Linked DNA regions of Homo sapiens: region 1 is linked to region 2. A link means that fine-mapping ties the variant in region 2 to the plasma level of a protein whose gene starts in the linked region. Region 2 holds a variant in brackets. A gene starts in the other region. All regions are shown on their reverse strands.

Region 1 (16,537 bases), not on the chromosome of region 2:
GTGTCTTCACCACTGTCAATGAGCAGAATTACTCTCTCCAGCCATTTCCCCTTGTGCCCCCAACCCCCATCTAGGACGGCCCATTCTTTGCACACTAACAAGCTGAGGCAGGACAGACCACAAGAGACCCAGCTTTCACCTCACATTTTGCTCACAGGAACCTCAGTCACAAGATACATCCCAGTTGGGCTTGCATAGCAGCAGTTATCTAGAAAGTGATCTGCAGAGCTGTCTCTTGACAATGGGTTTCTGTAACTAACCCAAGACCTGCAATTATTTATGCCAAAATTTGAAGTCAGGAAACACAGTCCTCTCCTGTGGTCTGTGTTTTGCTTGAGCACAGGCTCTCCCTGCCCGTGGTGAGAGGCAGTTGGGATATGGTGGAAAGGCACCTCAGACAGGCTGTAGGATGTGCATCCCTAAAAATGCTCCTCATCCTGAGCCTCCGCCTCCTTGTCTGTAACGTGGGAATGACAGCGCGTCACCCCTCTTAGATGTGAACAGCAGTGAGCACTATGTCTGGTATGTGAGCAAGGATTAGTCAAAATTTTGAGGTTTATTTTATTTTCAATCGATTTACTGAATGTGACTTCCTTTTCTTCCTCATCTGTTCTGCTATAAAGAATAATGCTGGCCGGGCACGGTGGCTCACATCTGTAATCCCAACACTTTGGGAGGCCATGGCAGGAGGATCACTTGAGGCCAGGAGTTCGAGACCAGTCTGGCCAACATGGTGAAACCTTTCTCTACTAAAAGCACAAAAATTAGCCAGGTGTGGCGGTGCACTCCTCTAATCCCAGCTTCTTGGGAGGCTGAGATAGAGAACTGCTGGAACCCGGGAGGCGGAGGCTGCAGTGAGCCGAGACCATGCCACTGCACTCCAGCCTGGGCGACAGAGCAAGACTCGATCTCAAATAATAATAATAACGCCTAGGTTGAAAGGCATCTTTCAACTATATTGATTATAAAAGGAAGAAATATTTCTAGCCACTAAGCCAAATTCTAGTAATATGTAAAATGTTTAATTTTAATAGTCATCATTCATTTAGTATCAGGAAGTTGAGGAAACAGGGGGTGAAGAGCCCTGGAAGAATAAAAGAAGAAGAAGAATCACAATAGCATGAAATGCTAAATGTTATTTACTGAGTTGCTGCTACGCACTAGGCATTGGCTGGGTGCATTATTCCTCGTAATTAATCCCCAGAGCTGCCATGTAAGGTCAGTGTTCCTCTCCTCACTCAAAAGGTAAGGAAACCAGATCTGAGAGGTAAAGTCATTTGCCAGGGTTGCCCAACAACGAAGTGGCAGAGCCAGGATTCAAACGCAGACCCATCTGATTGCAAGCCTATGCTTGCTCTGTGCCAATATGACATTCTGATACAAATGACAAATGAGCGCAGTTAGATACATGTCCCTATGCAATGCTTTCATCCATTATACATGTTGTACCCAAGGGATGTGACACCACTGTGAATTAAGCAGAATGGTACCTATGAAGGGTTTTTCTTTGTGTTACCCCTTTGCCCTCCCACTCCTTCATGGCTCTTCCTATCACCAAAAGCATGTATTGTTGATAATAATAAAAGCTCACTTCTTCTGAGAACTGACTGCATTTCAGGCACTGGACTCAACACCCGGCAGATGGAATGGAATAGTCAATGGGACACTTCTTGTTGTCTTGTGACTTGGACCATGGGTAATAAGTGCCTGCACACTTCTTTTTTTTTTTTTTTTTTTTTTTTTCAGACAGGATCCCATTCTGTCGCCCAGGCTGGAGTGCATTGGCACAATCACGGCTCACTGCAATGTCCACCTCCTGGGCTCCAGTGATCCTCCCACCTCAGCCTCCTGAGTAGCCGGGACTACAGGTATATGTCACAGTGCCTGGCTAATTTTTGTATTTTTTTTGTGGAGATGGGGTTTCACCATCTTGCCCAACCTGGTCTCGAATTCCTGGGTTCAAGCAGCCTGTCCACCTCAGCTCCCCAAAGTGCTAGGATTACAGCCATGAGCCACTACACCTGGCCGTGCCCACACATTTCAAAGACAGTGTGCCACTGGAGGTTTGGGGGTTGGGGGTGGGGTCACGGTGAATTAGTGGGGGTGGCAGGCAAAGAGACTGGTGCCTGATTCTGGCCCGGAGGAATTCACAGGTGGAAGCTTGGCTGGAACAGGCTGCATGGCAGAGAGAGGAAGGGGGCTGCAGTGTGAGAGGACTGAAACTCAGACTTTGGCGAGGCCAAGTTGATGTCACAGAAATGAGGCATGTTAGAGCTACCAAGAGGGCAGTTCAGGGCCCGAGCTGAGGTGCAGGTCCACCGTTCAGCAGGAGTGTGCCACCCCAAGGGGGCGACTGCAGCAGGACATGCCCAGTGGGTGGGAAGGGGAATATCTAAAGATCCCACAGAAGCTCCCCACAAAGGAGGGGTGGCCCAGCACTGGAAGCATTCACCATAACAAGGGCATCCAACAGAGGGAACCACAACAGCCCCAGTAAAGTAAAAGTGCCCTCTCCCTTCTTTTCTAACCCTCACCTCGCCCCAGGCAGCAGCAAACTGGTGAAGCCAGAAGCAGCCATGCATGTTAAGGAGAGAGAAGTGGAGGGAGGAAAGCCCCAAGCCCCTTCCCTCCAGCTTCTCTGCAGGTTCCAGCATCAGGTCTGAGCTGAGAAAGAAGAAAAGATGTGGCCTGGATGAGAGACTGAGGCTCAATACTGAAATGGACTTGCTTTCACAAAAGCAATTCTCTTCTAAGACCAAAAGCCACCAGAAAAGCTCTGGAATCTGCTTGAGATTTTTGTCAGAAGATGGGGGGAGTGGGAAGCCAGGAAAATGAGTTGGAAGGCAGGTGTAGGATAAAAATAATGATATTTCACAACGGCCATCCTTAGACGTTCATCACAAAGATAAAAGCCACACGCTATTCTCCACTTGATCCCCAGGATAGGAACTGAGGCTCAGTGGCATTGAGCAACTGATTATGCAATTGATGAGCACACGGCCACAGATGCAATCCCAGATGCACAGTGTCCAGCAATGGAGCCACTAATCCCTATACACTTCTGCCGTTCACCAGTAACAACGCATATTGATCTCTAAAGCACCTACTGTGTTCATGGCAGCACATGAGTTTCCACTGTCCAAAAATCTTCTTCCTGGGCAAAAATAGGGCTGAAAAAGCAGACTTCTCTGCCCGTGCTTTCCATCCGACCCCCCACCCCCAGCCTGAGACATAAATGAAGTGCAGATGGTTTTCTGAAGAAGTTCTCAACGAAAGCAAAAAAAAAAAAAAAAAAAAAAAAGCCGTGGACTCTTGCCATCAACCACAGTAAGGCTGCCCAGAGCCCAGGTCTACAGCATTTGTTTTTGTAGCCTGGAATATGAGAACTCCCACAAGTCCCTGTTGGAGCCCTTGGTGTTGCCTGTCCTTCTGATTTGTAACAAGATGTCCTCATTAATTACTGCCTCTCAGATTCCACAAGTTGCGCTCAGATTTTCCTGGGTAGGTTGATTGTTCGAAAGAAGATGAGAGCAAGGGAAATCCTCAACCTAACATTCTGTCAAGTGTAATGAGCAAGAAGAGAAGCCTGCTGGCTCTCACTCCAACACGTGGCAGGAAAGAGACTCCTTGTTTAACAGCAGAAGGGAAGGATGACTTCATCGACTCTTTCAGTATGCACAGCAAACCACAGGCTGAGCTCCGCGAGGGTGGGGAGGGGGCAGACAGGGCAGAAGATTTTTCTGAGCAAAACGCAGGATGATACATTTCCAAATAGGGAGGATTATTCTGCTGAGGGGTATTTTCCCATGGAAAGTTGGGTAAATTCTGCAGGGATGCATGAAGCGAAGGGCATTTACATGCAGGAAATGTGTATGCAGGAACCACAGGAAACCAGTTGTCCCCAAGAATCATTGTCTTACAGAGGCTGGTCATGTCTTTAATTCTGACTGCAGAAGGGGTGTTGGGTGGTGTGGGAAGGTGGGAGGGAGGGATACATTAGACTCAGGAACAAATGCTGCCTTGTGTTGCTTTTACCAGAAAGGCTCTTTGAGGAGTACACGACTGACCATGGGCTGCATGGATGGTCCCCCTACTTCTGCCTTCAGATGTTGCAGGGCTCTATGCTTCTGCTGTGTTCTCTCTTGGTATCTGCATCTACCCCTGTGGCTTTAATTTCCAGCCAAATGTTGACAGTTGCCAAATCTGTATGCGTGTTTCTAGCCCAGGTATCCTTGTGAGCTCAGAGATGACAGAGAGGGCCATGACTGTGTTGATCCCCTCTGTATCACCAGCCTCATAGCACAGTCCTGCCAAAGTAATATTTTGTGAAGTAAGTAGTAATAGCCACTGGATTTGTGTGTGTCTGTGTATGTGTGCTTATTAGATAATGGACATTGTGCCAAACGCTATAAAAATTATCCTCATTTAATCCTCAAAGTCCTGGGAGTCAGTTGATATCATTCTTTGTGACAGGTCCTCAGAGAAGTTAAGTAATTTGCCAAAGGACACACAGCTAAAAAGCAGCAGAGCTGGGATCACACACCAGGTCTGTCCACTGCCTGCGTCTGTGTTCTTCATCTGTCTGTTATATGTCCTGTATATACAAAACAAAAACAAAAACAAAAAAAACACCAGATGTCCTCCGTTCTGCCATGTGTTTTTAAGAGAGGGTTACTTCCTCTGAGTGGTGCCAAGGATGATCCACTGGGGACATGAATTGCATTTCCCTCACATAGAGGTTAAGTCCCAGTCAATTCTCATGAGAAGCTGGAGAATTCCCTTCCTAGGAAACACCAAAGTGCACAGATACTTCTGTCTGCAGGGGCAGATGGCATCCAAGCCTTGGCCAAGGGAGGAGGATGGCCCCTGAATCCTGATGGTCCTCTTGGACCCCAGGGGTGGATGGTTTCTGTGTCACCTCATTTTCCCCAAAGAAGGACACACACCCTGGGTCAGGAAAAAAAAAATACTACTTACGCCAAAGAAGAGAGGTAGCCAATTTCTAGCCACTGTTACAGACCTTTATACTTAAATTCAGGGCTTTCTCTGGTTCCCTTATTATCTCATCCTGCCTTGACAGTTAACCACAGGAAAATGAAAGCACTGCTTTGGGTTTTAGAAAAAGTGTATCATCATGGATTTCCAACAGAGTCACTTAAGAAGATATTCTGTCCCCAAATGACAGGGTGGATATCATTAAACTATGAAGGAAAATGAGGGAGATGAGTGGCTAGGGATGCATCAATGTCACAAATGTCACTGGCAAACTTGTCACTCCTTCCTTAACTCTCTTTGGCATATATTGCTAATGATCTGCAGCTTGGGCCCTGGGTGACTCAGGGGCCTTCCCTGTACTTCCCAAGTAACCTGGTCCAGGACAGCAAGTTCTCAGCTGGCTGAGGAATCTACCCTGGCTCAACTCACCTTGAACTAGAGGCTTAGGGGACCGATTTCACCTCTGTATCTCTTTCTCCTTCAGATCCAAGAAAATGGATATACAAGGGAGGTCTGTCTCTCCTAGGTTAAACTCCAGTAGAAGCAAGTACATACAAACATTTTTATTTCTAGTCTCTGTGATGTTGAATATAGGATTGCATATAGGATACAAGACAGCTAAGTATGGAAGAGAATGGAAATTTGGTTTTATGTGATAGGGCTTAGTATGGTCACATTCTGGGTATCACTCTGTCCCCCCATTCTCCTAGTTCTGTGGGATACCCAGGGAGTGTCCAGGAAGTCCTTGGAGATGACTCTCACACCACCGTGCTAGAACCCTTTTCCTGGAGAGCCATCCCATCAAGTCTGCCCACCCGCCTGAGGCTTGAAAAGATCAAGGATGGTGTCCTGACCCAGCCTCAGCACTCAATCACTTTTTCAGGGGTGACCACAGGCTCATTTTGTTTTGTTTTGACAACTGACTCTTAATCTGCCTTGCAAAGGCTCAAATGAGTGATGATAATGGTAGCTACCATTTTCTATGCATTTATTACATGCCAGGCTCTGTGCAAAGCACTTTAAAATCTCCTCTTGGACATCAGGCAAAGATGTTCATTTACCCCCAGAGAATGAATCACTTTCTCACAGCAAGAACTTCCTTTAGCTTTTGTGGGACCAAGCTCATGCACAATAACAAGATAAAATAGACACGGGACCTAAATTCAGGAACCTTCCTCTCCCTTATTCAACCAAACAGCCAGTCCCCAGAATGACTAAATATTACTTTGTATACAATTAGCCCTAATATCCATGGGTGTGAGGGGCGTCAGATTAAAACAAAACAAAACAAAAAACTCTGCAATTTCTTTCTTTAGCTAACGTGTTGTTTTCCACATATTGAAGTAACTTTAAAGTTCCAGTCTTCTAGCAAGGAGGAGAGCGTTTGCTAATTTCCAAGCATTTGCACTGTTCCACTCACACTCGCTGGGTACAGATTCAAATGGTGGCTGGGCAGCATTAGCAGTGAGTCCACTGTGGCAGAAGCAGCAAAGTCCCTGTCCATCCAGAGATCAGGCCTGAGATCTTAGCAACTTCTGCTCACAGACTGGTGGCTCCAGATGTGGCTACAGGACCTAAACCATGATCTCATGTCTGTATCCAGATCCTATAGGAGCCAAGGCTCTGGAATGAGCAGTGAATGGACAAAAGTTTCCACTGGGCCTGGGCACAATTTCCTCAGGCATCTTCTCAGAAAGAGAGCTCTGCCCACCCTACATTTCAAACCACAGAGCAGCACTGGACTGGAAAACCAGAAGCCACGGGATGATTTGAAATCATTTGTTCTATTTTCCCTCCTTCGGGAGTCAGCTGCAGCCTATAAACTGGGGACAAAGCAGTACTTAGAGTTGTATGAAAGAATGCCAGGTGCCTTCTTCCCTTCTCTCCTGGAAAAATGATACCAGTATTGATACTCTATTTTTTCCTGTGTCTGACACTGTCACCTTGATTCTGAGTCTGCAACAAATGTCTGAATGTCAAGAGGCCAGCTGCCAATACGTAGCCCTGACCGAGCAAGGTATCATCTGATGCCTTGGTGACACCTCAGCTTTTCCAAGAACCAGTGGATTTTAGGCACTGTGGCTAACCTGTGTCCCAATGTGGGCAGTTTGTTACTTTTATGTTGGAACTTGTTCTTTTTTTTAATGCTTATATAAGCAACACAGGTTTCATGCTTTTAAGTGAAGCCCTGCCTGTTCTCATTCATTCTTTCTCCATCCTTCCCCCAGATCTCTCCCAAGCACAAAAATTAATAAATAAGTAAAAAGTAAGACCTCCAAAAACTAGTTTTTTTTGTTTGTTTGCTTTGTTTTGTTTTTGTTTTTTAGATGGAGTTTTGCTCTTGTTGCCCAGGCTGGAGTGCAATGGTTCAATCTCGGCTCACCGCAACCTCCACCTCCCAGGTTCAAGCAATTCTCCTGCCTCAGCCTCCCAAGTAGCTGGGATTATAGGCATGCGCCACCACGCCCGGCTAATTTTTTGTATTTTTAGTAGAGACGGAGTTTCTCCATGTTGGTCAGGCTGGTCTCGAACTCTCGACCTCAGGTGATCCACCTGCCTCAGCCTCTCAAAGTGCTGGGATTACAGGCATGAGCCACCATGCCCGGCCAACCACATCATTTTTTTAGATGTCTTGAAATGTTTTCTTTGAGGTATTGTGAGGGTAATAGTATGGGGATTTCGAGAGAAGTTGTCGTCTTAACAAATAATAATTAAAACCTGTAAAATTAAATGTCTGGAGATACTTCAAAGCTGTTCAAATGTGTTTGCAAACATCCCCTTAACTGATTCACACAAAATCCAGACAAAGGGAAAGTTATCATAGCTTCCTAATCATAACTAAAATAACAATTCTGTTTTAGGATTTAAAAGAATAATGAAATACAACAATACTAAATTATCCAAAAAAAGACAGAGAGAGAGAAAGCTTTGACATTGTAAGTAAGTTAAAAAGAAAAAAAAATGAGAAGGAACATCTTAAAGGAAACATTTTATACAAAAATGTGTTACGCCAGGTAGAAGCTGATACAACACAGACGCATCTGTGTTGCAGGAAAGAGGATAACTATGCTTAGCCCTGTCTGAGACTGGAGTATAATACTAAGGATGCAGTACACGGGTCCTGAGAGGTACTTCCCAATTCATTTTAACTCTTCATGGAGGTGATAGGAGACTAATTACACTGCCCGGATTTTCAGGCTCGGGAACGGAGGCACCTGAGCCACCACTTTTGAGCTCATCTGCATTGGCCACCTCCCTCCCTCCAGTAAGTAAAGCTTGGGCAACTGGCACTCTTACCTGGGAGGCTGCTGGGTGCCTCTTCCAATGCTGCTGCTCCTGTGAGCCGGTCTCCTCCTGCCGCAGACCTTGGTACTTGCTGGTCGTCCCTGGTTCTCGTCTCTCCTTGGCTTCCCTTCCTGGGTTTAAATCCTGTCTAGGCCAGAGGAGGAGCAAATGGAGACTCCTGGTGTTTTCCTCCCTTCCTAGCAGGGACTCTGCTAAAAGATAATGAGCAATTCCTTCTCTTATTCTAACTAGGAAAGAAAAATATATACATTTCCTTCTTCTTTTTCACTTTGATTACACAGCAGCTAAAAATACTGGAGGCTGTTTCCATTTAAGTGAATCCAGAATAAGGATATTAAAAGAGTTTGCCTGTCTCCTGGCCAGGAGCTGGGTCTCGGGGTTCAAAAGTGCATTTATAAAGTTTCTTTCTCTTTTTCCTGTTTCAGGCATTCTGGGACTTCCTGCCTACTGCTTTTAAAATGGGAAAAAGCCTTTAGCACAGAAAGAAATGAGCAGAGACCCTCAGGGACAGAAGCTCTTCTGACTTCCCTCCTCCTTCATCCATCGTCTCACACTTGTGAGTGGCAGGACTCTGAAGTGGGGGCAGGAATAACAGACTGGGGACATTCGGTCCCACAAGCCCACTCTGACCCTCACCCCATCCCAAATGCCTCCCACACGCCAACAGTACAAGAGCTCCAAAATCAGGAAAGAATAGTCGTGCCCCTTTCTGGCTGCCCTTCCTCTTTTGCCCTCAGATGGACAGGCCTTCATCCTTCCTATGAACCAGAGTCATTTCAATAGGGCATGGGCTGACACCTGCCACCCTTCCTTACACCCCATCCCTCTCCTGCTCTGTGGGAAGTAGATTCTGGAGTGCAGATCCACAACAAAATGAAGGAGACCATATGTTTCCAGTTCACCTATGTCAGCATCAAATGCTGCTGGAGGGAAAGGAGAAGGAGAGACGGGGGACCAAAAAGTGGCCCCCAGAAATTGGAGGGGGGTTCCCAGAGGCAGCTTGCCTGGATCTGAAGCTTGTGTCTGCTACTTGCAAATGACCTTTGACAACTTCTTTGTGGCTCAGCTTACTCGTCTGTAAAATAGGAATAGTGTCTTATGGTTATTGTGAGGTTCAAATGAGTAGATGGGGTAAAGAACTTAGACTAGTCCCAAGACACAATGAGGACTTGGTAAAGATTACCTGCTACCATGATTATTATAACTTTTTAATTCTCCTTATGTATCCCACTAAATCATATTTGATCCTCTCCACCTCAGTCCAGGTAGGTTCATAGTTCTCTGCCCTTCACTTACAACCACAAATAATCCTGCTATCTGGCCCTGGAATCTGGGCCAGCCATATACAGAGGTGACCAGTGCAGTAGGAACCAGGGTCACCAGAAAATTTCCCAACTCCCAAACATCTCTTTTCTCCCTTGGACTATTTTCTCTGCTTCTTAAAAGGGAAAATCTCTCCCAGAGGATCCTAAGACTCTATTGCGCCCTCAAGTTGCTCTCCTATTCTTAATTTCCTTTCACTAACTCTCCCCAAATGAGTGGTCTTCACCAACTCTCTCCGTGACCCCATTTTCCATGCCCTCAATAGGAATAACTAAACCAGTGCACCAGGCTCCTAAGAAGCCACCTTCCTCCAATCTCTCCTTATTACAGCTGGTATTAGTTAGTTGCAGGACATGGAGCTGTAGCAAAGAGACCCTCCAATGCAGTGACTTAACAACATAGATGATTTCTCCCCAAACAGTAGAAGACAGTGGCCCAGGGCTGGTAGGGCAGTGCCACCATCCACAGCACACACCCACCACTCTCTAGGGTCATCATCTCCCAGCCAACAGGAAGGGTAAAGGGATGAGGGCAGATGGAAGTGCGTGCTCATTCCTTACAAACACAAAAACAAAAACTTTTTATTTTATAATTATTTCAGACTTGCAGAAAAATTGCAAAAATATTAAAAGAATCCCTGTATACCCTTCACTCATATTCTCCAAGTGTTAACATTTTGTCATATTTGCCAATCATTCATTCTCTCTTAATAGTTTTCCCTGAAAACATTTGAGAGCAAATTAAAGACATGATTTATCTCTTTACCCATTTATGTCTAAAAACTTTAGTATAGGGTGTTTCCCAACAACAAGGGCATACTCTCTCATAACCTCAATACAATGATCAAAATCAGAAATTGACATTGACATAATACTATTGTCTAATTTACAGACGATATTCAAATTCCATTGATTGTTTCTCTAATGTCTTTTATAGCAAAAGAAAAATAATTTACAGACCCAGGATTCAATTCAGGATAATTAATTGCATTTAGTTGTCCTGTCTTTAAAATTTCCTTAAGTTGGAATAGTTCTTCAATCTTTATCTTTCATGACCTTAACATTTTTGAAGAGAAAACGTCAGTTATTTTAAAGAATGTCCTCAGTTTGCATTTGTGTGGTATTTTTTCATGCCTAGATTTAGGCCATACGTTTTTGGCAGGCAGCGGCAGAAGCGGCGTGTCTTTGGTCCATCACATCAGGAGACACTTGATGGCAGTCTGTCCCAGTGTTGGTGATGTTACCTTGGACCACTTGGTTAGGGTGATATCTGCCAGGTTTCTCCACAGTAAATATTTGCCCTTTTTTATTTAACAGGTATATTGTGGGATGATGTTTTTAAACCATGTAAATATTCTGCTTCTTTTTATATTTTCACTCACTAGTTTTAACACCCATTGTTGATTCTTGCCTGGAACAATTACTACTATGCTGGCTGCCAAATGGCGATTTTCCTAATTTCATCTTTCTTTTTATGTTTACTAGATAGAATTCTATTATAAAAAGTAATTTTTCTTCCCCCACCTTTATTTTATTAATCACCTTATATTCAAAGTGACTCATATTCTTTTTTTCATTCTATGGGTTATATTCCTGTACTATCATTATTTTGTTGCTCAAATTGCCCCAGATTTGGCCAGGGTGAACCCTTCAGGCTGGTTACTGTGTGCTTTTAACACACTTCCATCATTCTTTGAGTGTTTCCTTACTTTTGGCACAGCAAGATATTCCAGACTGATCTTGCACTTCTCCTACCCAGTCCTTTAGAAGCAGCCATTTCTCCAAATATCTTTATTTCTTTCTATTGGAGAATGATGCACATTTTGGATAACGCTAGAAAAGGAACACATCACTTCTTCTGCATCCCATTGGCCAGAATTTAGCCAATGTGCACATACAGCTGCCGGAGAGGCTGGCACAGTGGTTGTGTTCAACTAAACCTCAGGAGCTCTGTGAGTAAAGAAAGGAAGAAAGAATAGGGGTTGATGGGCAGCTTGAAGTCTGCCACAGAGCCTACCCAATCACTACCGGTATAGTGTTCTCCCTGAATTCTAAAATCTAATCATATCTTTTCCCTGCCCCAAATCCTCCAGAAACTCTCATTACTTACAGGATTACGCTTCTAAAGTTCTCTGTAATGCCCCATCATGCCCCTTCCTATGCACCTCCATATCCAAATTATTCCCCTGCTATTTATAAATACAAACCATCAGGTTTTTTTTATTTTTTACTTATTTTTTGAGACAGAGTCTCACTCTGTTGCCCAGGCTGGAGTGCAGTGGTGAGATCTCGGCTCACTGCAACCTCCAACTCCGGGGTTCAAGTGATTCTCCTGTCTCAGCCTCCCGAGTAGCTGGGATTACAGGCACCCACCACCACGGCCGGCTAATTTTTATTTTTTTAGTAGAGGCAGGGTTTCCTCACGTTGCCCAGGCTGGCCTCAAACTCCTGACCTCAGGTGATCCACCTGCCTCAGCCTTCCAAAGTGCTAGGAGTACAGGCGTGAGCCACCACACCCGGCCCAAACCATCAGTTTCAACCAACTCAGCCTCCTCTCAGTCCCTGGTAAACATGATGCTCCTCCTTGTCTCCAGACACTGGTGATGCAGCCCCCACTTCTTGAAGTCAATCCCATCTCCACATCCAAGAGATCTGCTCAGATTTCCCTACTATAATAGCCTGAATCAATGTGAAATGTTTTTTTAACACCTGGCTTCAGAGTTTTTCTTAGAGAGATAACTCTCTTTGTTCAGGAAAATACTTAGGATCCTTAGGACAAGTTTGCAATGAAACAAAGAAACAAACAAACCAAAAAAAAAAAAATGCAAAACTGCTCTGCATGAAATAAATAGGAACTGGCAGTAGGAAAACAGAAAAGATTGTTAAGATTATGAAGGTCATGAGGCTAAGGCCTGGGGAGGAGTGGGGCAGGTGAAATAGGAAAATCACTTTTAAGAGCAAGAATGTCTACTCTATATTACATTGTTTGCTTTGCCTTTTTTTTTTTTTTTTTTTTGAGACAGTCTCACTTTGTGGCCTAGGCTGGAGTGCAGTGACACAATCTTGGCTCACTGCAACTTCTGCCTCCCAGGTTCAAGTGATACTCCTGCCTCAGCCTTCCAAGTAGCTGGGACCACAAGTGCCCACCACCACGCCTGACAAATTTTTGTACATTTAGTAGAGATGGGTTTCACCATGTTGGCCAGGCTGGTCTCAAACTCCTGGCCTCAAGTGATTCACCCTCCTTGGCCTCTCAAAGTGTCGGGATTATAGGTGTGAGCCACCAACCCTGGCTTGTTTGCTTTGTTTTCTATAAATCCCTCTTCCTGGTCCCAAACCTTAAGTTAAGTCTTCCACCCACACAAATGCTTTTTTTTAACTCATGTGATGGGGAAAGATAAACCAAAAGACAGGAGCTACATCACACATCTGGGTCAGCACTGCACAAGGAAATGTCTGTAAGATGTGAGGCATAGTGCAACAGACTTCAGAGGAAGCAGAAATTCGGGTCCAGGCATGACCCCTGGGATGTAAGCCCTTCACACTGCCCAGGACAGAATCCAGAGGAGTTGGTCATGGATGTGGGAATGGGGAGATCTCAGATTTCTCACAAGATGTAGGATCGAGATTGGAGCCAATTTTATTTAACTCCCTAAGAAAGCTGATCTTGGCTGACACCTGAGCTATAGGATTTCTTCTCAGAATTCTTCATTTAGAGACTTTCAGTAGTGGCTAGCTGTTAGTTGTGTCCACGAAGAGGCTCCTTAACTTCAGTATGAGCTCATGGAGAATGAGGACTGTTTTCTTTTATTGCCTTCACTACCTATGGTATTGTAAAGTAAATAATAAGCTATCTGAAATTCCATCATGACAGATTTATGCCTTAAGATGCCCAAGAACAAGGCAAATTCCCCAAACATATGAGGCCTACACCGTGGTAGCAGGCCCTATTTTGCCTGCCTCCCTGAGAGCCTTGCCCTTCTTCTTCACCAAGAACCCTAATTTTATTTTGATGTCTACTCACCACCTCCTGATCTTGGTTGGGCTCAGGGAAGGGCTCTGACTGATCTAAGCCAACCAGGGTAATTTCATCACCCTTGCCAGTGACTAATTTAGGCAAGAACATGCAGTGAATTTGAGGGTGGGTGAGACATAAAGGAGAGGACACAGATGGAGATTCAAGGAAAGGTTCCTTCACTCAAAAAAAAAAAAAAAAAAAAAAAAAGACCAGGTGTGGTGGCTCACACCTACCATCCCAGCACTTTGGGAGGCCAAGGCAGGCAGATTGCTTGAGCCCATGATTTTGAGACCAGCCTGGGCAACATGACGAGGCCCTGTCTTAAAAAAAAAAAAAACAACAATGAAAAAAAAAAACCCACAGCAACAAACACAAAACACATACACAAAAATTAGCTGGGCATAGTGGTGTGAACCTGTAGTCGCAGCTACTCTCAAGGCTGAAGTAGGAAGATCACCTGAGTTCAGGAGGTCAAGGCTGCAGGGTGCTGTGATCATGCCCTTGGACTCCAGCCTGGGCAACAGAGTGAGACCCTGTCTCAAAACAAAACAAAACAAAACAAATTCAAAAGAATTGGATATTGTCACATCTACAAAGAACACCTAGAACTGTGGCAGACACCTTACAACCAACCATAAGGGGTGCTAGCCAAAGACAAAGAAAACACACCAAGGATGTCGGAACAGAAAATGGAAGAAATCCTGTGTTTTTATGATGTTGCTATCCTGCTGAATTAACCACCTCTCAAGTTTTCCTACTTCAGAACTTTCTTGAATCAGGAGTTTGTTTCTTAGAGCTGCTAGCATTCTAAGGGATTCAGTTTTTTTTTTCTTAGTAACATGTAAATGGAAAAATGATACAAGAGCCTATATTCAAACTAGGGGAATAGTTTAATATGAAACTAATTTCAACTCATTTTGTCCAAATAGTATAACCCATTCCAGAACAACCCGGAAAAAAGTCACTGATTCAAATGATGGTTCAACCAACATGTTATTATGTCTTATTTTATTTGAGAAAAATGTAGGAGAAAGCATTCCAACGTCAGTCATCTGTGGTCGTCTCTAATTGTATTCATCCTAAGAAATCTCCCAAAACCCAGTAGGCCAATGTGCTGGCTCTAAGGGAGCCTGAATCAGTTGTCTAGTTTGGAGACCTAGAGCTGCTCTCAGCTGGTTTTGATCTGTTTGAGCTGGCTGGAAGATATGTCTTCATATCTTTAATTAGGATTCTGCTGAATCTAAAAGAACTGAAACCAAAGCTGAACAGACCTCTAGGGTCAATATCTTGTGTTGGCGCTCTCTCTCTCTGTGTGTGTGTGTGTGTGTGTGTGTGTGTGTGTGTGTGTGTGTGCGCGCGCGCGCACGCTGTCACGCTCCATAAATTATATTTATTCTGTACCCATTTTCTTCTTATTCATCCCTTGTAATAGTTACTGAGTTCAAGTCTCTAATAGTGCTTACAGAGATGCACCATCTTTGACATTAGATGTGTGTGCCTATAAAAACAGAGAAGAGAATGTGGGATTCAGCTAAGAAGGTTTATTACTCCCTTCAAGGCAATGAAAGACCTTGATTCTTTTCCCATCAATATTTCCTTCTCTTGAGTCAATATGTTTTGATATCCATCTCAGTAGAAGTCAGTATCTTCTCATTAACCTCTTTTAGCAATAGCAGTTGCTATGAGCCAATGACCTGGTGTGTGAAATTAGAAATCTGCATTTGCAGCTAGGGACCCAGAACCTAGGGGCTGACAGTTCGATCCTTAGAAGGCTCTTGATGCATTACTTGACCATAGGTTGCTATTTTGTAAATATCATTATTTTCATGACAAAAGTAACTTATTATTGTAGACTAACTAGAAAATGTATAAAAATATAAAAAAGAAAATTAACATTTTCTGTAATTTTCACAACCAGAAATAACCAGTAATTTTTTTCTACGAATGTTTTCATATGTAGAGAGACATATAATATCTGTGCATATACATAAAAACAAGATTAAACAATTAAGATTATATTATATAGGGAATTTTTTCTGTTTGCTCCTTATATAGTAACTTTTTTCTCCATTTTCTTACATTTATTTAAAAAGACATGCTTTTTAATGTTGCACAGCATTCTAGTATGTACATCAAATATACGGGGGAAGGGATTGGTTGCAGAGGGACACAAAGTAATTTAGGGGAGTACTGGAAATGTTGTATATCTTGATGGTGGTGGTTGTCAAATACTTTGCCAAAACTCATTGAACTGTACATTTTACAAGTATAAATTTTAATATATATATATATTATATCTCAATAAACCTGACTTAAGAAGAGAAAAATGAAAAGACTTGCTGAAGGATCCCCACATAATCTGACTCAGTGTTGCCCAGGTCTTGGTCTACCCTATAATTCTCTCAGTCTTGGCAGCACATGGTAATCGCTTGGGAAGTTTTAATAAAAGAAATTGGCAGTGTTGGGGTGGGGAAGAGAACCAGAGACTCTGATTTAATTGGCCATGGGTCAAACCCAAGAACTGTATTTTGTAAACGTTCCCCTGGTGGTTCTAAAATGTGCAAGTGTGTAGCCAGAGTTGAGAACTACTGATCTACACTGTAAGTCATTTAGATCAGGGAGGCAGGAGGATAAAAAATGGAGTAAGTAAATTTCACAACCATAATATCATTTTATATAATAAATGTCATAAACTAAACATTTATTAGTACACTGATTTTCTTTGTCTTATTTTCCCCAAAGCCCTGAGATAGTCATATATATATATATGCGCATATATATATGTGTATATATATATGTGTATATATATGCGCATATATATATGTGTATATATATGCGCATATATATATATACATATATATATATATATATGTGTGTATATATATATATATATATA
Region 2 (15,719 bases):
CCTTCTATCACTTGTTTATAATAAATCAAAAGAAGAAGTCTTTCCATCCAGTTCCTCACAGGAATGGATAACAATGGGTAACTCCCAGAGAAGGAGCTGCTGTGAAGTCGGAATTGGGTTCATCATGCATGCTCATGGGTGCGTTAGTCAGCTCGGCTGCTGTGACCAAGTGCCACAGGCTGGGAGGCTTCAGTAACAGAAATTGGTTTTCTCACAGTTCTGGAGGCTGGAAGTATGAGGTCAAAGTGTCGGCAGGGTTCGTTTCTCCTGTGGCCTCTGTCCTTGGTTTGTGGACAGCTGCCTTCTCCCTGTCCTCACATGGTCATCACTCCACATGTATGTGTGTGTGTGTGTGTGTGTGTGTGTGCGTGTGTGCCCCTGGTGAGCTTGTGTGTGTCCTAATCTCTTGTTATGAAGACACCAATCCTATTGATTAAGGTCTACCCAAATGGCTTCAGTTTACCCTAATTACCTCTTCAAAGGCACTGTTTCCAAATACAGTCACAGTCTGAGGAACTGGGGGGAACTTCAACATATGACTTTTGGGGGTAGAAAATTCAGCCCCCAACAACTGCTTGCTGTTCCTAGAACCAAGGGAGGCCCAGGGCAGAGGTGGACAAGGCCCTACTGCTGGCCCCTGGGAAGAAGCAGCAGCCTGCACTCTAGCAGGGATGAGGAAATGACATCTGTCAGCCAAAGCCAAACCAAGAGCAGCATGAAGAGCAAAGGGGCGTCTGTGGGGAGAGGGTCTGGTTGCCCGGGAGCTGAGCCTCTTCCTGCAGAACCATGCCTCTGGGAGGCAGGGAGGGAGTTCAGCTGTTGGCTCTGCGGGGTTCAAGTTCAAGGCCTCTTCAAGACTCTTCTGACTCTTCTGAGGTCTCCCCTCTCTGCAAAGGGTCGTATTCTTGACGTCAAGAGGGTGAGGAGTGAAGAGGCTGTGTTTGTGTCAGTCAAGTGTCCAAACAAACAATTGCATAAGTCAGAGAGGGGACTACAGAGTCACGTTTTCCCAGGCTTTCGTGAGCCCGTCCCACAGACGTTCCTTCTGAGCCCGTCCACCTGGAGGGCAGCGTTCTCCATATGAGCAGCTTTGCAAAATGAACACACCTTAGTCCTCCCTCTCCTCCCCATACATCATATGTCCTTTTCCTTCCAGAATGCAGGGAATGCGGGTTATTTTAGAAACAAGAGTGTGTTTAGAGGGCTGTATCCTTTCTTCCTGGGTGTGGTTAAGGATCAGTCCTTCTAGAACTTTTACATGCAAGTCACCAGGGTGTCTTGATCAAAGGCTGGTTCTGATTCAGCAGGTCTGGGGCTGGAGCTGGAGAAGCTGTGTTTCCAGCAGGCTCCCAGGTCTGCAGCCACACACAGGGTAGTGCTGCAGAAGAGGAAGTCAGGAGTGCCGGATCTGGGCCCTGCCTCCGCCTAGGATGCACAGACAAGTTATCTCTTCAGGCCACAGCCTCCCTATCTCCAAAGTGGAGGAATGGATGCCATAAACCCAATGGTCCCTCTGGCTCTCACATTCTAAGAGACTAACTTGAAATTTGCCAAAAGCGTAGGGCACAGAGTCCCAAATGACCACGGGACTGGATGAAGAAATGGGAAGGAAAGAGCAGGTAGAAAACTGCGCAGCCGTAGGGGGAGCAGTTCGCAGCAAACACAGTGTGAGTGGTGTCCCCTGGATTTGTGTGATGGAGCGTCCCTGGGTTACCAGGCAAATCTTCTTAACTCTGTTCATTCCTTTAGCTCTTGACTTCCTGTAAAAGCTCATTTCCATGTAGAATACATTGACAACTCTTAGGAAAACTGCTGTGTACTTGAAGGATTCACTATTCCTCCAACATCCTGCTAATGACAGGTCCCCTGACTCCCTGAGAAGTGCTCTATCTGCTTCATCAAGAAGCGTGAGGCATAAAGAAGGCCTGGTGCCTGGAAGGGGAAGCTTGGGAGCCCCCATGGAGTCTTTGCTTGTGTGCCAAGCTATTTTAGTAACATGAGACTGCAGGCTTGGGTGTGCTGGTCTGAATGCTGGAACATTAGCTCCAAAGAGGCCTGGGAAGCCTGCAGGGCTCAGGGAGGCCAAGGGTGTGGGCTTGGCGTGTTGGCACCTGGATGCTTGGGTTCAACCGTCAGCAGCAGGCCTGTGGTCTCCCAAGATTCTGCCGTCAGCCTGCAGATCAACTGTGCCCTGGAATGGACTCTGTGCATGCCCAATTTTAGGAGATGTGGTGGGGAGAAGTCCCCTCAGAGAAGAAAACAGGAAAACAGGCCTTGCTTCCAGGGAGGATGGTTTCCAAAGGAGGGGTCCATCCATCAACCTGCAGGTGGGGACACGTAAGAGTTGGAAGGGACCGGATAGTTTTTCTTACTGGCTTTTACTGATTCAGAATGCGCATGCTGGGATCACAGCACGTGTGGAGGGCTGTGGAGGGAGAGGAGCCTGGAGGGGCTTTCTCTTTCCATCTGCTGTGGCAGTGGATGGCCACCCAAGGAAGGGGACCAACTGGAGATTCAGCAATGCTCCCATGCTCATGGCACCTGCTGGCTGCATTGGTGACACATGGGGACGTGGGGACACTAGGGTGGAAGGGCCATTGTTACTCAGGTGCAGTTTTCGGGACTCAGCCCCTACCTCCAGCTGAGATCTGGTTGCTGGGTCCCTGGCAGCTGCCCTGTACTCATTCAAGGAACTGGCAGTTTCCAGGGGGAGACAATGAGATTCATGAGCCTGCTCCTGACACGTGCTAAAATCCTGGTGCATGCAGCTGCCCTGTCAGGCACGTGTTGGCATGTGTGTGGCAGACAGCCAGTGCCTGCTGAGGAGGCAGCCAAATGTACCCACCCAGAGCGAGAGAAATATGACCTACAGCACAGGATGGTCACTCACTCTTGCCAGCGGCCCCTTTTAGCTTATCTCCATGGTTCGTAGGAAACAGACACTTAATTCCAGCAGTTCTTCATTCTAACTCAGTCTTGAACTCTGATTTGAGGTTTTCATGCATAAGAAGTTGCAATAGGAATTAGGAGACTAGGGAAACTATTGCTCTAGGAACGGATCTACCCTGAGAAGTATACACACATGCACACACTTCCCAAGGAACATACCGAGGAATACAGGGATGTAATACTTTAATGTTGACCATCCCCTCTGTGCTGAACTTCTACTGCCTCCCCAGGGGAATCTCCAGTGCTCATGAACAGAAAGGGCTTATAGGAGTTGCCTGTGGAAATAGTAGCCACGCTTTTTCTTTTCTTTCCTTTTTTTTTTTTTTTTTTTGAGACAGGTCTCACTCTGTCACCCAGGCTGGAGTATAGAGGTGCAATCACGGCTCATTGCAGCTTCAACCTCCTGAGCTCAAGTGATCCTCCCACCTCAGCCTCCCCAGTAGCTGAAACCATAGGTTTGTGCCACCACGCCTGGATAATTTATTTTTATATTTTGTCTATGTTGCCCAGGCTGATCTCCAACTCCTGGGCTCAAGCAACCCTTTCACTTCAGCCTCCCAATGTTCTGAGGTTACAGGTGTGAGTCACTATGCCTGGCCATGGCCAGATTATTCTGACACTTTCTTCTCTTCTTCTTTTGGGTGAGTGTCATGAACAGTGAGGCAGGACTTCTCTGAGAGTCTCACAGGCCCGCCTTGAATCAACATTAGCTGAAGGATAAATACGCTGTGTTTGTGTTTTAACCATGCCTTTTATCTTATGGGTTTTCCTGCCTTGACATCTAGGGCCTTGCTAACCCTGAAAGAACTGCCCCTGATAGGGCTAACCAGTTCCTAGAGATAGTAACTTTCTCTCAAGCCAAAAAAAAAAAAAAAAAAAAAGCATGCTTTTCAAATGCAAATTACCTTTCCAGCTAGAGTAGGCTCAGGGAGACCACAGCATAGCCACGTGGTGGAAGAAGATTTATGGAGAGAAAGATAAAAGTGATGTACAGAAAATGGGAGTAAGGTTCAGAAACAGCCAGTTTGGTTATAGCTCGGTGTTTGCCTTATTTGAACATGGTTTGAGCAGTTCGCCCCCTTTGATTGGCCAAAACTCAGTGATTGGCACAAGAGTAGGTTGCAGTCTGTTTACATCTCCATTTAGGTTATAGTCTGCGTTGTATAGAGAAAGCTTTAGGCTGAACTTAAAACATGTAAGGAGGCAGCATTAGGCTGAACTTCATTTAATACCAGCCAACTCCAAAGCTGCTCACCCTGCCTCATCCATTCTTTCTGGCTCTTGACTGTAGCTCCCCCATCTCCCTCTGCCTCCTGACCACCTCTGGTGCTTTCCTGTGTGGTCCCCTGTGGTATGACATGCTCCCTTCTCTAGGGAACTGTGAGTAACAAACTACCTTTTCAATAGAAGTTGTCTCCTGATCTATTGGCTTTACTATAGCTCACATTTTCTATTAATACAGTATGTTCTGAAACAATTTCCATACACACAGAGAAGCAAAAAGATTCATGCCATTCCTGTGGTCATGATGAAGAAATATAGGCTGAATGCCAAGTAGCTACAAGTGGGATTATAAGAGCTGGGCACAGTGCCCAGGGAATCAGCATCCAGCTGGGGAGAGGGGGCTGGTGGGGTTGCCTAGATCTTTAGTCCTGAGCTTTACAGAGTATCGCCAGTGGTTTTGTTGTAGCAGATTGCAGGCTGATACGAGTTGTAAATGACACAAAGCTGAGATTAGCTAATACTAAGAAAGCACAATCAGAATTCAAATGATATCAACAGGCTGGAGTCATGAATGGAAGCTGTACTAGTGTGTTTTCATACTGCTATGAAGAACTGCCTGAGATTGGGTAATTTATAAAGGAAAGAGGTTTAATTGACTCCTAGCTCAGCATGACTGAAGAGGCCTCAGGAAACTTACAATTATGGTGGAAGGTGAAGAGGAAGCAAGGCAACTTCTTCACAAGGCGGCAGGAAGAAGTGCCGAGCAAAGGGGGAAGAGCCCCTTATAAAACCATCACATCTCGTGAGAACCCACTCGCTATCATGAGACCAGCATGGGGGAAACTGCCCCCGTGATTCAATTACCTCCACCTGGTCTCTCCCTTGATACGTGGGGATTATGGGGATTATAATTCAAGATAAGATTTGGGTGGGGATACAAAGCCTAACTGTATCGGAAGCTAACAAGATGAAATGTAACTGAGGATAAATGTAGAATATTCCATTCAGGGTCCACAAGCTACCTGCACAAGAGCAAGATTGGAATAACAACAACAAAAATCCACTTGGTTTACTAGTAGCCTGTGGGTAAAGGTGGCTTGGGTAATGGGCTCAGTATAAGTCAACAGTGTGGAGTTGCAGTTAAGCAATGCCATTTGGCCTCAGGCTGTGACAGCAAAGAATTTCCTCCAGAACAAGGGGGTAATTACTTCACAGTGCCATATATCCCTGGACCTGGGTTCAATGTCAAGTGGTCCATTTTAACAAGTTTTTTGAAAGAGAATAAGGTGTCCAGAAAAGGGTGGCCAGCCTGGTGAAGGGTCTAGATACAGCCATATATAGAATGATATAAAAATTAATTAAAAACAATCATGGATGACACAATCACAGTAACGAATTAGTGTAAAATTATATGACTGAAACATTTTTAAAATTAAAGAAGTAAATGGAACTTTGGGTTAAATATGAAAGTCAAATACAACCAGTTATCTCTTCTGCCTTTAGAATCCCACTAAAACAACTGTAAACTTGGTCAAAGAGAATGGTTGAGACAAGGCAACAAAATTCTTGAAGCTGAAAAGCAGAAAAACAAGTGCTAACTGACTTGGCAGACTCAAGAAAAATTGAATCCTAATTTGGGAGTTGGCAAAGTGGAGAGACTGGAGAACAATCTAATTTGAAAACTAATCTGACCGTTGTAAAACATAGCCCCCAAATTCTTTGACACCCCCCCACCCCCAGTAATAGATGACATCTATGTCTTCTCCCCTTGGATGTGGGCATGCCCGAGACTTCCACCATCCATAGAGTGCAGTGGGAAGGATGCTGTAGAACTTCTGGAGCTAATTCAGAAGAGGCCATGCATCCTCTGCCCGGTGGTCCAGAAATGCCTGCTCTGAGGATGCTCCCTCTCAAATCCCCGCCATCCTGCCAGGAGAAATCCAGCCACATGGAAAGCCCATGTGCAGGTGGTCCAGTAGACAGTCCCAGCTGAGTCCAGCCTTCACGTCATAGCTGAAAAATGATCTAAACAAAAGGATGATCTAACTCTATGAGGAGGATGGGGGAAGGCATGTGTATGGGTGGGAAATAGAGTAAAAGAGAGATAAGTCTTTTCCTTACAGTTGGAATGGATAATCATAAGACTGAAAAAAGAGAAAGAAATAGCAGTATAATTATGTTATTTAGAAAAGTGGAGATAAATATAAAAAGTAAGACTTGAAGGGTTGGAAATTGGTGCCTATGGGAAACAGGATATGGGTTTGAGAGGCTGGGGAGCTGTTGCTTTCATAATAAGCCTCATAGAACTATATGATGATGATGATCATGACGATGACGATGATGATAATGATGATGATTACAGATGGGATCTTGCTGGAGTGCAGTGGTGCAATCATAGCTCATTGCAGCCTTGAACTCCCGGGCTCAAGTGATCCTGCTGCCTCAGGCTTCCTAGTAGCTAGGACTACAGGCGCAAGCCACCCCACCCAGCTATGGTTATTTTTTAAATTATTAAAAATACATGCATATCTTTGATAAATATAAGATCTAAATTAAACAAAGAAAACCTTCACTTTGCACTAGCCATGATATGTGTTATGTTTCAGGAAGGAAGAGAAGGAAATAAGTTATATGACTTTATATTCTGATTCCTCACTGTTTTCCTCCATTTCCTCTTTCCTCTCTCCCTCTCCCTCTTTCTCTCTTTTTCCATTTATTTGCCTTATTTTCCTCTCTTTTATCTCCATCATTCCTTCTCAATTTTTCTTCACCTTTATTTCTTTTTTTTCTCATTTTTTTTCTCTTTCTGGTATAATCTGCCGCTGAAATATATTTGTTAGTATTACTTATTAGGTTTATTGAATATAATATTTCCTGTTTTTAGTTCTTGCTATTAAAAACATGCATGGAATGTTCTTTCTTTTCCCCAACCAAAGCAAACTAAACACAAAGTCAGTTGTAAGCTACTTTTTATCAAGGTGGAAAAAGTTTTCTTCTAATGGCCTTCTTTGACCTGGGAGAGGCATCGGGGTTACTGGGTGCAGGCAGCCACCCAGTGCGGGAAACTACTCTGTGAGACTTCCATGCAGTACAGATTACCCAAGCTCTGATTAAGCAATGCCATTGGTAGGGAATTTCCAGGCGTCAGCCAGGGTTCTGGGGTCCAGACAGCTCAGTGGTGAATAAGAACTTCTGTATATTTGGTGGCATTCCCCCCTCCCTCTAGGATAGTTCAGAGAAAACTTACATCTCTGCATGACAGCCCTTCATGTATCTGAGAACACAGTCATGCCCCGTTGCATAGTTTCTTCTCTGGGTTAAGCACTGCATTTTGCTGTTGTTCTCTGGACCCTTCACCAGCCTAGTCACTCTGGTGGGCACCCTCTAAGTTTTGACTAAATCTTTCAGAAGAACCTAGAACTGAGCATACTACACCAACTGTGAGCTCATTAACGCAGGGCTCAAAGGCTCTGTATCCTCAATCTTTCTGTTCATCCTGCTTTTACTAATGCAGCTTAAGTTTTGAAATGCAAGTTGAGTATCCGAATCTGAAAATCCAAAATCTGAAATGCTCCAAAATTCGAAACTTTTTGAGTGTCAACATGACACTTAAATGAAATGCTCATTGCAGCATGTAGGATTTAGAATTTTCAAATTAGGGATGTTGAGCTGGAATCTAAAAAAATCTGAAATCCAGGCCAGGCACGGTGGTCCAGGCCTGCAATCCCAGCACTTTGGGAGGCTGAGGCGGGAGGACTGTTTGAGCCCAGGAGTCTGAGACCAGCCTAAGCATCATAGCAAGACCCTGTCTCTACAAAAGGTAAAATCATTAGCCAGGCGTGGTGTTGCGTGCCTGTAGTCCCAGGCTGAGGTGAGTGGATCGCTTAAGCCTGAGAGGTCAAGGCTTCAGGGAACTGTGATCAGGCCACTGTATTCTAGCCTGGGCAACAGAGCAAGACCCTTTCTCAGAAAAACAAACAAACAAACACACAAACAAACACCCTGAAATCTAAAACACTTCTGGTCCCAAGCATTTTAGATAAAGGTTACTCAACTGGTAGCTGTTTTCCCCAACTGTTTCTGACTTCCATCAACCTCAAAGCCATCTCCAATGTAAGATTTTTTCTTATATGCCTGGAGAAGCCTGGTGTTCCATATCCTGTATGTGAGAGGTGTCTTTTCCCAACATGGGTGTCTATTTTGCCCCATCCCACTAAATTCCTTCTTACAAGTTTTGGCCCCAAATCTTACCCTGTTTTGAGAAGTTTCTTATGATTCATTTGAATAAACATGTTTGGCTACCAATTACAAATTACCCCCATTAAAATGATATCATAATCTAATTCTCAAATTTTACATCATCTCAACTCCAAGAGAGATCCCTTAAAGGGTACCCTGGGTCATTGAGTCTGACAAAATAAGCAGTTCCAGTTAAGGCTGGCTCTTGGGTCTCTGGGCTATGAACGTGACACGGAGGAAGCTCATTGACTTTGCTGTCTACAACCCTGGACCGGTGTCAGAAAACCTGGGCTGTCTCACGGAATCCATCATCCCCACACTCTGGGAAAAGAATTAAAATGAGCCAAGCACATCGAGACGAAGCAGATGGTTGGGTGGATTCCATGACGGCGCAGGGAACTCCACAAGGCAGAGAACTTTGCTCCCGCTGTCTTGGACTCAGTGCCAGCTGTCAGCAGCTGGACTCTGGATAGGGAGCCCCATCATCGTGATTAATACTCCATTTGTCAGGGGCTGCTAAGTCTGAAAAATAACAGTAAGGCTGACATTAGAGAAGAGCTTCAGCATTTTCAAAGTGCCTTCGCCTCATAACCACCCTTGAGGTGGATGGTAAGGCCGGGAAATAGTAACCCGGTAGTACAGCATGTGAAAACTCAGGTTCAAAGAAGTTTTGTGACTTGCCTACCTCACAGGGCTGAGGAGGGTGGAGATGGGAGTCAAGACCAGGCTTCATGGCTCAGAATCCAGTGTTTGCTTCACGAAGCTTCTCTGAAGTCTACCATCCATATCACCAACCGTTCTGTGGTGAGCAGGTCTATGCAAACCTACTGCCATGTCCTAGGTGGGCACAAGATGAGATGGTAGAACCCCACACCAACACCCCCTATCCCAGGGCTTATATAACACAGGGAAGGGGTATAACATGGATTTGCTAAGGGCAGGATTTACGTCAAGGTTGTTTAGACCCAACGGCAGGATTCACGGTAAGTATGTGAAAGTAGAAATCTTAGAGGCATTCCTGGAACTGGGGTGAATTGGAAGTCAACATGGCGGGTCAGCATCCAAGATGGAGTTCCTTCAGTCTCCACACCAACTGGTCAGAGTGGGCTCATTATCTGCTCTGGGCCTGTCACTGGGCTAGATGCTGAAGAAGGAGCCGCAAGGGTAGAACATATGGACCAGGCCTTTAATGAGCTCAGCGCAACCAGAGGCATGTTGTTCAGGCCCTTCAGCAGGTGGTCAGCCCTTAGCACTGGAATTATCTAGGGAAGCTGAGGCCCAGCTGGCAGAGGAGGCTCCAGAGGAGAGGCAGAGTCTGAGCTGGCCTTGAAGGGTGAGCTGTGCTGGGGAGTCTGGAAGGTGGTGGTGAAGGGCAGGCAGTGCCAGAGGCTCAGTAGGTGGGCATGGGGGTGAGAGGGACAAGAGAAGGAGTGTGGGTGTCATGGTGGCAGAGGACAGGATGGAGGAGGCTAGTGGGCAGGGGTGGCCCCTGGCCTTGAGCAAGGTGTTCAGGCCACTCGCATTTATAGGGCTGAGCTGCAGGATGGGAGACAATGACAAATGGGACGTGGCCCCTTCCTCAGGAAGGGGACAGGTAAGATGGCCTTACTGCCCTCTCAGGACTGATGGCTCCTCCTCAGACTCCACCAGTGTGGGCGTCTTTTACGATGTGGCACTTGGAGCAGTAGGCCTTAACATTTTTCTAAAATTATTTTCAATGATTGAGAAAGTCATCTCTACTACCAATTTCAGCTCAGAATTTCCCTCAGTGCATGCTGTGGAACACTAGCCTTATTCTCTGTTCAAGTGAGAATGGAGAAGCCTTAACACTACATCCCCCTCTTGGAGGATTACCAGGCTCAAGAGCACCTTAAAAGCTCTGATAAGTCCTGCAATAAAGGCATGCTTTTGGCTTTCACCAGAGAATCCTTTTTCAAGGGACTCCTAGGACCATCTCATGAGGTTTGTCAGTGGCCTCTCAGCCACTGTCTAATCCCACTGTCTATTCTGTGATATGGAGTTATTATTTTTATGTCCCGTGACAACACAGAGACCAAGAAGCTTAGCGATTGCCCAGTGATGTGCATTTAGGAATGATCAGATTGAAGTCCAAGACTTGACACTGTAAGTGTAGGGATTTACTCCTAATTCAGCATTTTGTGACAGTGGCATTTGTTGCTGACATGCCTGCTTTCCTAGCTAAGCATATAAATTAGTGTGCTGAGGATAAATAATCTGAGTTATCTTTTTATGAGGTTACTGTAGTTTTTTCTTTTTCTTTTTTCTTTTCTTTTTTTTTTTTTTTGGGACAGAGTCTCACTCTGTCGCCCAGGCTGGAGTGCAATGGTGCGATCTCAGCTCACTGCAACCTCTGCCTCCCAGATTCAAGCGATTCTCCTGCCTCAGCCTCCTGAGAAGCGGGATTACAGGCGCCCGCCACTACGCCCAGCTAATTTTTATATTTTTAGTAAAGATGGGGTTTTGTCATGTTGGCGAGGCTGGTTTTGAACTCCTGGCCTCAAGCGATCCTCCCACCTCAGCCTCTCAAAGTGGGATTACAGGCATGAGCCACCGTGCCTGGCCATTTCTTCTAATTAATAAAGTACTCATAATTTTGAGGGGAGAGGGGAATACAGAAAATTATAGAGGAGGAAATCCAAATAAAAATGTTAAAAGCTGGGCTGCTTTCTGACTTGGAGGCCGCTTTTCTCAGATCTGTTTTTCCTCCCTGAGATCTAGCTACTGCTGGCTGGGGTTAGCGACCTTGTGGGTCAGGGTGGTTGACGGATTTCAGTTCAGACTGGATGAACAGACTTCAGTTCAGACTGGATGAACAGACTTCAGTTCAGACTGCATGGATACTTTGAGATAAACAAGATGACAAATCAGAAAACATTTATGTTATTGATTGAATACAATTTTACAAAGGCTAAATTCTTATTTCATGTGTACAATTATTTTTACCAAAATGAACTCCTAAACAAGATCATGTTCATTATATGATTAAATGTTACTTTTTAAAAATGATAAATACAAATTTTGAGTTTTGAAAGATTACATACTTTTTTTTTTTTAAGACAGAGTCTCACTCTGTCACCCAGGCTGGAGTGCAGTGGCATAATCTCAGCCCACTGCAACCTCTGCTTCCAGAGTTCAAGTGATTCTCCTGCCTCAGCCTCCCAAATAGCTGGGATTACAGGCGTGAGCCACCATGCTCAGCTAATTTTTGTATTTTTAGTAGAGTCAGGGTTTCACCATCTTGACCATGGCTGGTCTCCAACTCCTGGCCTCAAGTGATCTGCCTGCTTCGGCCTCCCAAAGTGCTGGGATTACAGGCGTGAGCCACCGCACCCAGCTGATTACATACTTCTCACCAAGATATTTTTACAAAGCTGAACAATAATAAAAGATAAACACTGGTTTGTAAACGATGGACAAAAATTGCTTTTGAAAAGCACTTATATTTCATGTGAACCAGATTAAAAACTAACCAAAAAGAAAATACTAAAGGTAAACATTTTCGAGTGTATTTTTGCAGAGTAGGCCACAGATAAAGAAATAGCAAGGTCCCTGGGGTAGTCAAATTCAAAGAGACAGAAAGGAGAATGAGTGGTGCCAGGGGCTGGAGGACAGGGGACGGGGAGTTGTTGAATGAGTGGAGTTTCAGTATTGAAAGATGAAAAGAGTTCTGGAGACTGGTTGAACATCAATTCAAATGTACTTAACACTACTGAACTATGTATTTAAAAACAGTTAGGGCTGAGCATGGTGACTCATACCTGTGATCGCAGCACTTTAGGAAGCTGAGGCGGGTGGATCATTTGAGTTTGAGACCAGCCTGGCCAACATGGCGAACCCCCCGTCTCTACTAAAAATGCAAAAATTAGCTGGGCGTGGTGGTTCACCCCTGTAATCCCAGCTACTTGGGAGGCTGAGGCAGGAGAATTGCTTAAGCCCAGGAGGTGGAGGTTGCAGTGAGCTGAGATCACGCCACTGCACTCCAGCCTGGGCCACAGAGTAAGACTCTGTCTCAATAAATAAATAAATAAATAAATAAATAAACAAACAAACAAACAAATAAATAAGGGTTAGGATGGCAAATTTTATGCAATGTGTGTTTTACCACAATTAATTTTTTTAAAAAGTTTAAACAAGAAGTAGCAAACTATAATGAAGAAATATGTAAAAAAAAAAAAAAAAAGAAGCAAAAATATGAACAGTACAGGATCGATGTGTTCCCTGGGAGAAGATAGAGACAAAAAAGAAGGGCGTGGCCTCAGCTCCACTCTGTGCTCAGGGTGAGACCCAGGCTTCCCTCTCCCCTGACCTCCTCTCTCTGGCCACTGCATCCTCTGTGCTCTGGCCACTGGGCCTTTCTCTGCCCCTCCGGCATGTCCAGTGTGTTTCCATACTGAGGCCTCTGAGCCTTCTGTTCCCTGTGCCTGATGCTGTTTCCTCAGATTGTCACACAACCAATATTTCTGGAGCGTGTACTGTGCGCCAGGCACCCTGCTAGGCATTTTGAAGCACTCAAGTGAGCTGCCTTCCTGGAGCTGCTGTTCTAGCAGACAGTAAGCAAAACCAAGCAGGGTGAGGGGGACTAAGAGTGGCAAGGGGTGTGTAGCAATTTTATTTATTTATTTATTTGAGATCAGGTCTCGCTTTATCACCCAGGCTGGAGTGCAGTGGTGCAATCCTGGCTCACTGCAGCTTCGGCCTGCCTGGTTCAAGTGATCCTCCCACCTCGGCCTCCCGAGTAGCTGGGACTACAGGTGCCTGCTACTGCACCCAGCTAATTTTTGTATTTTCGGTAGAGACAGGTTTTCACCATGTTGACCAGGCTGGTCTCAAACTCCTGACCTTAAGTGATCCTCCCGCTTTGGCCTCCCAAAGTGCTGGGATTGTAGGCGTGAGCCACCATGCCTGGCCTGTGGGTAGGAATCATTAGGCTCAGCAGCATGAACAAAGTGACATTTGAGAAAAGATGGGAATGAGGCAAAGAAGTTAGTTGTGCAAACATCTGGTGGAACCACTCCAGGCAGATGGAACAGCCAACCCCAAGCCATAGGGCAGGACCTGCTGGTGTAACGGGCCCAGAGTTCAAGTCAACAATCAGACTTAATGACATAATTAAAGGTGCTCAACTTCATGAGTCATCAGGAAAATGCAAATTAAAACCACAATATGGCACCTCTACAATGCACCAGAGCAGGGAAAATGGAATAAACATCACTGACACTGACAAGGACAAGGAATAAGTGTAGTTTCATCCCCTGCTGGATATAAACTAGTACAACCACCATAGGAAACTCTTTGGCAGTGTCTACCAAAGCTGAACACAGGGCCATCCTATGCCCTGGCGATTCCATGCCCAGGTATATGCCCAAGAGAATGGCATTCATATGTTCCCCAGAAGACACACACAAGAATGTTCACAGCAGCACCATTTATCAGAGTCAAAAATGGAGTCTGGACATGGTGGCTCACACCTGTAATCCCAGCACTTTGGCTGGTGGAGGCGGGAGGATTGCTCGAGGTCAGAAGTTTGAGACCAGCCTGGGCAAGATAGCGAGACCTCATCTCTACAAAGGATTTTAAAAAATTAGCTGGGTGTGGTGGCATGTGCTTGTAGCCCCAGCTACTCAGGAGGTTGAGGTGGGAGGATCACTTGAGCCTGGGAGGTCGAGGCTGCAGTGAGCTATGATTGTGCCACTGTACTCCGACCTGGGTGATAAAGTGACATCCTACCTCTAGAAAAAACAAACTGAAAAAGCTTGGTCCCTCCATTTCAAATACTGAGATTTCATAGATGAAACTACTTCAGAAGTCTATTGAACCCTCCTCTATCAAGGCAATCACATTTTCATTCAGCTTCTGGGGGGGAAATGCCTACTACAAATGCCATCCGTGATTGAATGGAAGCAAATCATTTTGGGGACAATTCTGATTTTAGTGGCAAGGAGGTATCTGAGCTAAGAGCTGCCGGGAGGACTCTCACCCATGAGAAAACCAGCCCTCCAGGTCATTCCTATACTTCACTGTCAAATCTCCCTTTGCCTGTTCCGGCAGCTTTATTCATAATAGACAAAGATTGGAAACATCCCAAACCCCCTTCAGCAGGAGACCGATATACACATTGTGTGTGGTATGTGCCTATCACGCAATAGGACTCAGTGCTTCGAACAGGGCGGGAGGTGGGAGGACAAGCGAGGATGAGCGTGGAGTCCTCACATGGCAGAAAGGCAGAGGATCAAGCCAGCCCACTCCTGCAAGCCCTTTCTACGGCATCCCAAATACATTCATGACTCAAATACCCCCACAAAGGCCCCACCTCCCAACACTGTTGCAATAAAGATTACATTTCCAATGCTTGAATTTAGGGGGACACTAACTACCACATTTCTTGCTAACATACACATCTCTTTAGGGAAGGTCTTTGGACATCACTTTTTTTTTTAAGACAGGATCTTGTTCTGTTACCCAGTCTGGGGTGCAGTGGTGCGATCACAGCTCACTGCAGCCTCAAACTCCTGGGCTCAGTTGATCCTCCCATCTCAGCCTCCCAAGCACCTGGGACTACAGGTGTGCATCACCACGCCCAGCTATTGTTTGTATTTTTTTTTTTTT[G/TG]TAGAGACAGGGTTTTGTCATGTTGCCCAGGCTGGTTGGACATCATATTTTGAGCACATTTCTGGCTGTTTTTAAGATTACATTCCTAGGAATGTTGGTGAATTGATGGGGGACAAAAACATTTGTTTCCCCTTGAGAGGCAATGGTACAGGGGAGGGGTTAAGAGCATAGACCCTAGGATCACATTGCCTAGGGTTGAATACTAGCTCTGCCACTTACTGGCTACAAGACCCTGGACAAGTCACTTCCTCTCTGTCTCTGTAAATGAGCATAATAGCAGCACCTGCCTCAGGGGGTTGTTGAATAGGTTCAATGAGCTAATATATAAGAAACACATGGTATATGCTATAAAGTGTTGTCTTCTTTTCCTTCTCCTCCTCCGCTCCCTGGGATTATTACCATAATGATACAATTATCATTTGTTCTTTCTGTAAAATGGAGTTTGATGTTGGAGCTGCTTCCTAGGCAGTCAGGCAGGGCAGTCACTGAGAATGAGGACGGCGTTTCTGACTCAGCTGTGGGCGGGCAGCTGCAGTGACACAGCTGAGTCTTGGCAAACACTTTTCATGTACGAAGCCTGACCCTGGAGTCTTGAGGCTGAACTTTTCACCAACAAACAGGAATGCATTCATGAATGTTACCTCTGGGTGCTGTCCTCTGGAAGCCATCTGCATAGCCTA

Which allele goes with the higher level. Positions count from the first base shown, and alleles are read on the strand shown. Strength reflects both the effect of a copy and how common the allele is.
For the plasma level of the protein whose gene starts at base 8,395 in region 1, allele TG in region 2 goes with a higher level than allele G (weak association).

What was found. A credible set is the group of variants that fine-mapping cannot tell apart. PIP is the chance, under the fine-mapping model, that this variant and not a neighbour inherited with it causes the effect. Protein levels are from antibody-based Olink assays in UK Biobank. Linkage for the fine-mapping came from a reference panel and not from the study's own genotypes, which makes the PIPs less certain.
Region 1: TNN starts here. The variant in region 2 is the best candidate, but not a certain one, in a credible set for the plasma level of the TNN protein (UK Biobank, PIP 0.67).

Annotation. Positions count from the first base shown.
Region 1 is chr1:175,059,691-175,076,227 of GRCh38, reverse strand. TNN (tenascin N) reads right to left here and starts at 8,395. Exons shown (of 19, transcript NM_022093.2): 1 at 8,293-8,395. RefSeq lists an enhancer at 7,875-9,074.
Region 2 is chr8:27,993,502-28,009,220 of GRCh38, reverse strand. No RefSeq gene overlaps it. Among named protein-coding and RNA genes, the nearest start is that of SCARA5, 8.7 kb to the right of the region's middle. The variant G/TG (reference allele first, on the strand shown) is at 15,040.